2 separate regions of the Homo sapiens genome follow, and region 2 is linked to region 1. Evidence: fine-mapped expression QTL. A gene starts in region 1. The other region holds a variant in brackets. All regions are shown on one strand. Distances are from middle to middle. Region 1 holds the start of PATZ1 (POZ/BTB and AT hook containing zinc finger 1). Region 2 overlaps PRR14L (proline rich 14 like).

What was found. PIP is the estimated chance that this variant, and not a neighbour inherited with it, causes the effect.
Region 2: its variant is the best candidate, but not a certain one, in a credible set for the expression of PATZ1 in liver (GTEx, PIP 0.59).

The regions. Positions count from the first base shown.
Region 1 is chr22:31,344,248-31,348,247 of GRCh38, reverse strand. PATZ1 (POZ/BTB and AT hook containing zinc finger 1) reads left to right here and starts at 1,902. Exons shown (of 5, transcript NM_014323.3): 1 at 1,902-3,916. The coding sequence starts at 2,646. LINC01521 (long intergenic non-protein coding RNA 1521) reads right to left here and starts at 1,489. Exons shown (of 1, transcript NR_120386.1): 1 at 1-1,489. RefSeq lists silencers at 1,397-1,616, 1,667-1,736, 2,107-2,526, 3,077-3,146 and an enhancer at 3,967-4,000.
Region 2 is chr22:31,694,448-31,698,962 of GRCh38, reverse strand. All of the region lies in intron 7 of PRR14L (proline rich 14 like), which reads left to right. Among named protein-coding and RNA genes, the nearest start is that of PISD, 34 kb to the right of the region's middle. RefSeq lists an enhancer at 3,425-3,926. The variant G/A (reference allele first, on the strand shown) is at 2,423.

The DNA of each region.
Region 1 (4,000 bases):
ACTGCGCCCGGCCTAGTTTTGTATTTTTAGTAGAGATGGGGTTTCTCCGTGTTGGTCAGACTGGTCTCGAACTCCCGACCTCAGGTGATCCGCCCGCCTCAGCCTCCCAAAGTGCTGGGATAACAGGCGTGAGCCACCGCGCCCGGCCCCTTTCTCTTTCTCTGTGGATGTTCCCAGCAGCTCTCTCAAAAATAAAACGTGCCAGTTCCCAAAATCCGCCCAAGAAAGCTGTGGCTCAGAGAGGGAGGCACTAGCCTAAGGTGACAGTGAGTCTGGGCTTAGAACACAGATCTCCTGGCTTCGTGTCCAGGGAACTTTCTTCATGCCTCTAATTCATTCTCTCCAACAGGAGTTTGGCATGTACTATGCCCTAGAGCGGAGGTGTGCAGGACAGGTGCTGCTGTCCCTGTGCACAGGTTAAGAAACAGTTTAACTGAATCTCAGGGAGGCCAAGTGACTAAGCACCAGGACACGAAACCAGAAGGCAGAGGTCTCGATTTTGAACTCGGATCATCCGCCAGGGCAACGCCCGGAAGCCTCAGGGCGCGCGTGGCTGGGCGCGAGCTCGGCGCGCAGCGGTGGGAATCCCGAGCGGAGTTGGAAGCCGGGCCCGTTCATTTGCATGCTAATACCCAGAATGCTTTTCCCCCGCACACCGCTTCTCTTAATGGAAGCGCTCAGTTTGGAACCGTGGAAAGTTTGGAACACATACTTCGCTGCCTCTTTGCAACTGTGGGAACTTCCCGCCCGCACACGCGGCGCCTGCAGCCTGGGGCTCCGCGCCAGGCGGCCCAAAGGCAGCCGCCAGCGCTTCCTGGGAAGACAAACCTTGGTGTACAACTCTAGCGTGGTAGCATCCCCGGGCGGGCCGGGGACAAAGCGCCGAGGCCTGGCGGCAGGGCCCATTACCAGAGCACCCGGCGTCTCACAGGGCTGCGGGCGCTGGGGATGCTCCGGGCTTGGAGAGGCCTGAGGGTGTCCCCGACTCCTCCGGCACCCCCACTTCCCTGAGGATTGCTGGGGCTTCCGGGGGTCCCTGCCCCGTCCATCGCCCTCATATTGTCGCCTCCCGGAGCTGGTGACTTCACGCTCCCCGGGGACAAAGCTCGGCGTGCTGTGGTTTGGGGGAGAAGCTGGACGCTGGCTTCATCTCTCCAGCTCTTCCGGGCGCGCAGCCCATCAGATCGATCAATGTACCGGGTGCAGAAGCAGCTCCGGAGGTTCGGCCTGTCTCCGGCCAGGACCCCGGGCCCTCTCTGGTGTTTGAAGCAGGGAGGCGGTCGCAGGCGACTTCTGGGAATTTCACGCATGAAAGCGGGGCTCCGAAGGGTGGACGACGCCCGCTCGACCTGCGAGTGCGCTTCGCAGGCTGGGGGGCCCGGATCCGCACCCCTCAGTTCCTGCCCCCCCACCCTGCTAGCCGCCACTCTCAGCGGGCAGGGGAGGGGCAGTGGGAGCTGGTTTGCTGGCTCGGCGCTTCGTTTGCATTGGTCCGGGGGGGCTGAGACTGCAGCCCCCGGCCCCGCGGGCGGGGTGGGGAGGCGGGGGCCGGACGGGGGCTCAGGCTGCTCTAGCATTGGCGGATCTGGGGAATGGGGAGGGGGGGCAGGAAGCGGGGGGAGCGGACTGCGGGGGGGGGGTGTATAAATAGGGAAGGGGGGACGTGCATCCTCGTCTTGGTGAGGGGGGGGCGCTCGGCACAAAGAAAGTGTAAAGTTTGCAGCGCCAGGCGGCCCGGGCTAGGCATCCGGGCGCGCACGTGCAAGGCCGGGGACGCCGGGGCCCCCACTCTGAGCTCGCCGTTTCTTTTTTTTCTGCAAGCGAGAGGGGGGGTGTTGTTGGTATCGCCCCCTCCTTCTCCTCCCCCCAGGGGTGAAAGTGCAAGAGGAAGTGCAGCCGCTGCCATCTTTCCTCCGCTCCGAACACACGGAGCCCGGGGCCGCACAGCCGCCGCTCCGCCGCCGCCTTCTCCCGGCCTGAGGAAGGGCCTACTCTGCCGCCGCCGCCGCCCGCCCGCTCCAGCCGCCGCCGCCGCCGCCACCGCCCTCCAGGCTCCGGGACCCGGCCCGCGCCACCGCCCCCGTGCGCGCCCCGCCGCCGCCGCCTTCGCCTTCGCCTTTTGTTTCCTCCGCTCCGGCGCCCCCGCCCCGGCTCGCGCTTTGCAGGGGACGCAGCGCGCGCCCCCAGCGGGCCCGGGAAAAGCCGCGGCGCGCGCGCGCGCCTGCGCGGCGGACCCCTCCTTCTCCTCCCCGCGTGCGCGTGCCCTTCTTGGCTGCGCGCCGGCGCCGCCTGGCGGGCGGGAGGGGAGGTGGCAGGCGCGTTTGCAGGAGGGGCGCACCTCTTCGCTCGCGCACCCCCCCGGAAGGTAGACCGGGAAGGGGAGGCGGGCGGGCGGAGAGGAGAGAGTGGCGCGCAGTCCAGCGAGGGCGGGGGTTGGCTATGTGGGGGGTGGTGCACCCCGCAGTCTAGACAGTCTGATCCGGGCTGGGGGCGTGTACACTCGGCGCACCTGCGAGACTACAGAGCCTCGGGCCGGCACGTGTGGGGAGTGTGGACACGTCTGCTGCGCCCCGCTTCTCGCTGCTGAGGGGAAGGGAGGGGGCGGGCAGGTGCAGCGGCCGGGCTAGTGGGAGGGGGCGGCGGCCATGGAGCGGGTGAACGACGCTTCGTGCGGCCCGTCTGGCTGCTACACATACCAGGTGAGCAGACACAGCACGGAGATGCTGCACAACCTGAACCAGCAGCGCAAAAACGGCGGGCGCTTCTGCGACGTGCTCTTGCGGGTAGGCGACGAGAGCTTCCCAGCGCACCGCGCCGTGCTGGCCGCCTGCAGCGAGTACTTTGAGTCGGTGTTCAGCGCCCAGTTGGGCGACGGCGGAGCTGCGGACGGGGGTCCGGCTGATGTAGGGGGCGCGACGGCAGCACCAGGCGGCGGGGCCGGGGGCAGCCGGGAGCTGGAGATGCACACTATCAGCTCCAAGGTATTTGGGGACATTCTGGACTTCGCCTACACTTCCCGCATCGTGGTGCGCTTGGAGAGCTTTCCCGAACTCATGACGGCCGCCAAGTTCCTGCTGATGAGGTCGGTTATCGAGATCTGCCAGGAAGTCATCAAACAGTCCAACGTACAGATCCTGGTACCCCCTGCCCGCGCCGATATAATGCTCTTTCGCCCCCCTGGGACCTCGGACTTGGGCTTCCCTTTGGACATGACCAACGGGGCAGCCTTGGCAGCCAACAGCAATGGCATCGCCGGCAGCATGCAGCCAGAGGAGGAGGCAGCTCGGGCGGCTGGTGCAGCCATTGCAGGCCAAGCCTCTTTGCCTGTGTTACCTGGGGTGGACCGCTTGCCCATGGTGGCTGGACCCCTATCCCCCCAACTGCTGACTTCCCCATTCCCCAGTGTGGCATCCAGTGCCCCTCCCCTGACTGGCAAGCGAGGCCGGGGCCGCCCAAGGAAGGCCAACCTGCTGGACTCAATGTTTGGGTCCCCAGGGGGCCTGAGGGAGGCAGGCATCCTTCCATGCGGTCTATGTGGTAAGGTGTTCACTGATGCCAACCGGCTCCGGCAGCACGAGGCCCAGCACGGTGTCACCAGCCTCCAGCTGGGCTACATCGACCTTCCTCCTCCGAGGCTGGGTGAGAATGGGCTACCCATCTCTGAAGACCCCGACGGCCCCCGAAAGAGGAGCCGGACCAGGAAGCAGGTGGCTTGTGAGATCTGCGGCAAGATCTTCCGTGATGTGTATCATCTTAACCGGCACAAGCTGTCCCACTCTGGGGAGAAGCCCTACTCCTGCCCTGTGTGTGGGTTGCGGTTCAAGAGAAAAGACCGCATGTCCTACCATGTGCGGTCCCATGATGGGTCCGTGGGCAAGCCTTACATCTGCCAGAGCTGTGGGAAAGGCTTCTCCAGGTGAGGAAAGGCCCCCTCTTCCTCCCCTGCCACACGTTATCTTAGTCCTGAAAAGGCTCCTGCCAAGATCTGGGGGTGTGGGAT
Region 2 (4,515 bases), 350 kb before region 1:
ATGCATACATGAATTAAACTCTGGTATTAGACTTTTTTTTTTTTACACAGTCTCGCTCTGTTGCCCAGGCTAGAGTGCAGTGGCACGATCTCGGCTCACTGCAAGCTCCGCCTCCCAGGTTCACGCCATTCTCCTCCCTCAGCCTCCCGAGTAGCTGGGACTACAGGCGCCCGCCAGTACGCCCGGCTAATTTTTTGTATTTTTTTAGTAGAGATGGGGTTTCACCATGTTAGCCAGGATGGTCTTGATCTCCTGACCCCGTGATCCGCCCACCTCGGCCTCCCAAAGTGCTGGGATTACAGGCGTGACCCACCGTGCCCAGCCACTTTAGTATTAGACTTTTAAGAATGATTCAGAATTATTGTAAAAATCAGAACTAAATCTATTGATTTATATAAGTCTCAATGATTGCTTTCTTTTTTTTTTTTGAGATGTAGTTTTGCTCTACATAAAAAAAAAACTCATTGTTTTGAGATGTAGTTTTGAGATGTAGTTGTTGCCCAGGCTGGAGTGAGCCACCAAGCCCAGCCTGCTTTCATATTTAATATAAGAGAAAAGTATATTGGACAAACCAATTGGCAGGGCAGTTTATCACGTACTTTTTGGTATTGTTAATGGGGATAGAAGTTATAACATCTGGCCGGGCATGGTAGCTCATGCCTGTAATCACAGCACATTGGGAGGCCAAGGCGGGTATATCAACTGAGGTCAGGAGTTCAAGACCAGCCTGGCCAACATAGTGAAAACCTGTCTCTACTAAAAATACAAAAATTAGCTAGGCATGGTGGCAGGCACCTGTCATCCCAGCTACTCATGAGGCTAAGGCAGGAGAATCGCTTGAACCCGGGAGGTGGAGGTTGCAGTGAGCCATGATTGAGCCACTCCATCTCAAAAAAAAAAAAGAATTACAACATCTTATAGGATCAGATCAGAAGGGACTGACTACTTGAATTAAATATTTCATTATATGAATTGATAAAAGTTCATGCCTTAACCAAAGGAAATTACTTAAATTTTTTCTGTGGGTTTTGTACACTTCAAGTGTTTGGTAGTCCCAGTAAACATCTTGATATATATATAGTTACAGTTTGTTTGTTTTGTGACAAGGTCTCGCTCAGGCTGGAGTGTAGACGCATGATCATGGCTCACTGCAGCTTCAACTTCAACTTCCTGGGCTCAGGTGATCCTCCTATCTCAGCCTCATGAGTAGCTGGGACTACAGGCATGTGCTACCATGCCCAGCTAATTTTTGTATTTCTAGTAGAGATGGGATTTTGCCATGTTCCCCAGGCTGGTCTTGAACTCCCAGGCTCAAGTGATCTGGCCACCTCCACCTCCCAAAGTGCCCAAATTACTGGTGTCAGCCATCGTGCCGATCCCATGTATATGTTGAGTGGAACTTTTCTAAGTGATGACATATTGTTAATGAGAAGTGAGAATAGCTAGAAAAAATATTGTATATAATTAAATACACGAACAAGCTATTTTTAGTGTTTGAAGCTCTCTTTCCTAAGTAAGGTTTTTTTCTTAAGTAGACATTATTTGATGATAATCAAGGTGAACGAGGCAAAGTCACTCTGACAACTCCTTTCCATGAGATACCTGAAATCAATTGTCCAATTGCCCAAATACCCAATTTCTTTTTTTTTTTTTTTTTTTTTGAGACAGAGTATCACTGTGCCACCCAGGCTGGAGTGCAGTGGTGCAGTTTTGGCTCACTGCAACCTCCACCTCCTGGGTTCCAGTGATTCTCGTGGCTCAGCCTCCCGAGTAGCTGGGATTACAGGCACCTGCCACCATGCCTGGCTAATTTTTTGTTTGTTTGTTTGTTTGTTTGTTTGTTTTTTGAGAAGGAGTTTCACCCTTGTTGCCCAGTCTGAAGTGCAATGGCATGATCTCGGCTCATGGCAACCTCTGCCTTCCAGGTACAGGCGATTCTCCTGCCTCAGCCCCCCGCGTAGCTGGTATCACAGGCACACGCCACCACACCCAGCTAATTTTTGTATTTTTAGTAGAGACAGGGTTTCACCATGTTGGCCAAGCTGGTCTCAAACTCCTGACCTCATGTGATCTGCCCGCCTTGGCCTCCCAAAGTGCTGGGATTACAGGCATGAGCCACCGTGCTCAGCCCCTAATACCCAATCTCTAAAGGCACTCTTCTCTCTTAACTGAATAATGTGTAGTAAAGGAAAAGAAAAGCCCAAGACAAGTTTATGGTGATTTCATTAATCACTGGAAAGGGCTTAGCAAAATGAGTGTTTTGATTGATGTATCAAAGAAGAATTCAGGATGGGTAGGAGCTGTTCTGAGAGAATTTGTGGGAACAGAGAGACCTGCAAGAGCAATTCAGGACACTTCTTAGATGTATCACTTTTAGAAATTAGAGATTGAGCTGGGTATGGTAGTTCACACCTATAATCCC[G/A]ACACTTTGGGAGGCCAAGGTGGGAGGATCACTTGAGCCCAGGAGGTTAAGAGTAGCCCGGGCAACATGGTGAGACCACATTTCTACAAAAATTAATAATAAGGCGAGGCGCGTTGGCTCATGCCTGTAATCCCAGCACTTTGGGAGGCTGAGGTGGGTGGATTGTGAGGTCAGAAGTTCGAGACCAGCATGGCTAACATGGTGAAACCCCATCTCTATTAAAAATACAAAATTAGCTGGGTGTGGTGGCGTACACCTGTAATCCCAGCTACTGGGGAGGCTGAGGCCGGAGAATCGCTTGAACCCAAAAGGCGGTGGTTGCAGTGAGCCGAGATCGCACCACTGCTCTCCAGCCTGGGCAATAGAGCAAGACCCCATCTAAAAAAAAAAAAAATTATAATAATAAAGAAAAAATAGAAATTAAAGATTGAGTGGTTGATTCTCCTACAGCCGGGTTCTCGTGTACTCTGTGGAAAGTTTTTAGGTACACTAAAGACCACTGGTCTAACATATTTAGTAGCAACCTAATTTAGCTCTTAGGATTTTTACCTTAGTATTACGTATTGGTTCAAGTCCAATCAGGAGACAGAAATCACACAGTATTTTAGACAGGGGAAGTTTATTATAAAACATTAAACTATGACAGGGAGTAACCTTAAATGTAAAGAGAATCCTGAAGGGTACACTCGGGTTAAGGGAGAGTACCCTAGGAAGGGCAAACTTGGAAGGGACACCACCTCCCTCAAGGTTGGAGTTGAGACTTGGTTGGAGAAGGTGAGGTTGCAGCCCATTGGATGGGTGGGTTGCAGAGGCCAGAGCTGGGCAAGCAGGAAATAACAACCACCTTCTCAAGCATAGACAAGATAAGGCTGCTGCAGACGGAGGTAGGGCACTGCTGTGATGCAAGGCCTGGAGCATGTGGTTTTTGCTTCAGGAGAGTGACAGGAAATGACCATCAGGAAGTCAGGTTACCACTGAGGGCATAAGGCCTGGAGTGCCCTATGCGTGTTGGGAAGCCTGCAGCAAAGTGGTCGCCAAGCTAAGGCTGCAAAGTCACTGAGGGACTACATGTCCTGGCCGCACCACTAGGGCAGAGAAGCCCCAAGACACCCCAACATATATTAATCACTGATGGCCCATGGTGCAGGAGCAAGAAAAAAAGCTCACCAAACCGGAAAGAGAAGCTCCCTTCCACCTGCATTGTTCCTCCAACACCTTGTGACAAAGTTTAGCATCATACTCACTGCAAAAGAGAAATGCTTAAAGGGCCTAGGATTCCGTTATCACAGAGCAGGTACTGCAGGGCAGATTTTGAGCTGAAAAGCAATAATTTCATCATTGGCATATAGTAAACAGTAAAATTTTGATACATTATTCGCTTCACAAAGAGCTGTTCTTTTTTTGGGGGTATATTATTTGCTTGACAAATAACTGTAGGTTTTTTTGTTTTGTTTTGTTTTGATGGAGTCTGGCTCTGTCACCCAGGCTGGAGTGCAGTGCCGCGATCTGGGTTCACTGCAACTTCAGCCTCCTGGGTTCAAGGGATTCTCCTGCCTCAGCCTCCCGAGTAGCAGGGACTACAGGAGTGTGCCGCCACACCCAGCTAATTTTTGTATTTTTAGTAGAGACAGGGTTTCACCATTTTGGCCAGGATGGTTTTAATCTCTTGACCTCATGATCCGCCCATCTCGGCCTCAAAGTGCTGGGATTATAGGCGTGAGCCACCGCACCTGGCCTAATTTTGTATTCTTTTTCTTTTTTTTTTTCTGTTTTTGTTTTTGTTTTTGTTGAGACGGAGTCTTGCTCTGTCACCCAGGCTGGAGTGCAGTGGCCCGATCTCAGCTCACTGCAAGCTCTGCCTCCCGGGTTCACGCCATTCTCCTGCCTCAGCCTCCCGAATAGCTGGGACTACAGGCGCCCGCCACCACACCCGGCTAATTTTGTTTTTTGTATTTTTAGTAGAGACATGGTTTCACCATGTTAGCCAGGATGGTCTCGATCTCCTGACCTCATGATCCGCCCACCTCAGCCTCCCAAAGTGCTGGAATTACAGGCATGAGACACCGTAATTTTGTATTCTTAATAGAGACAGG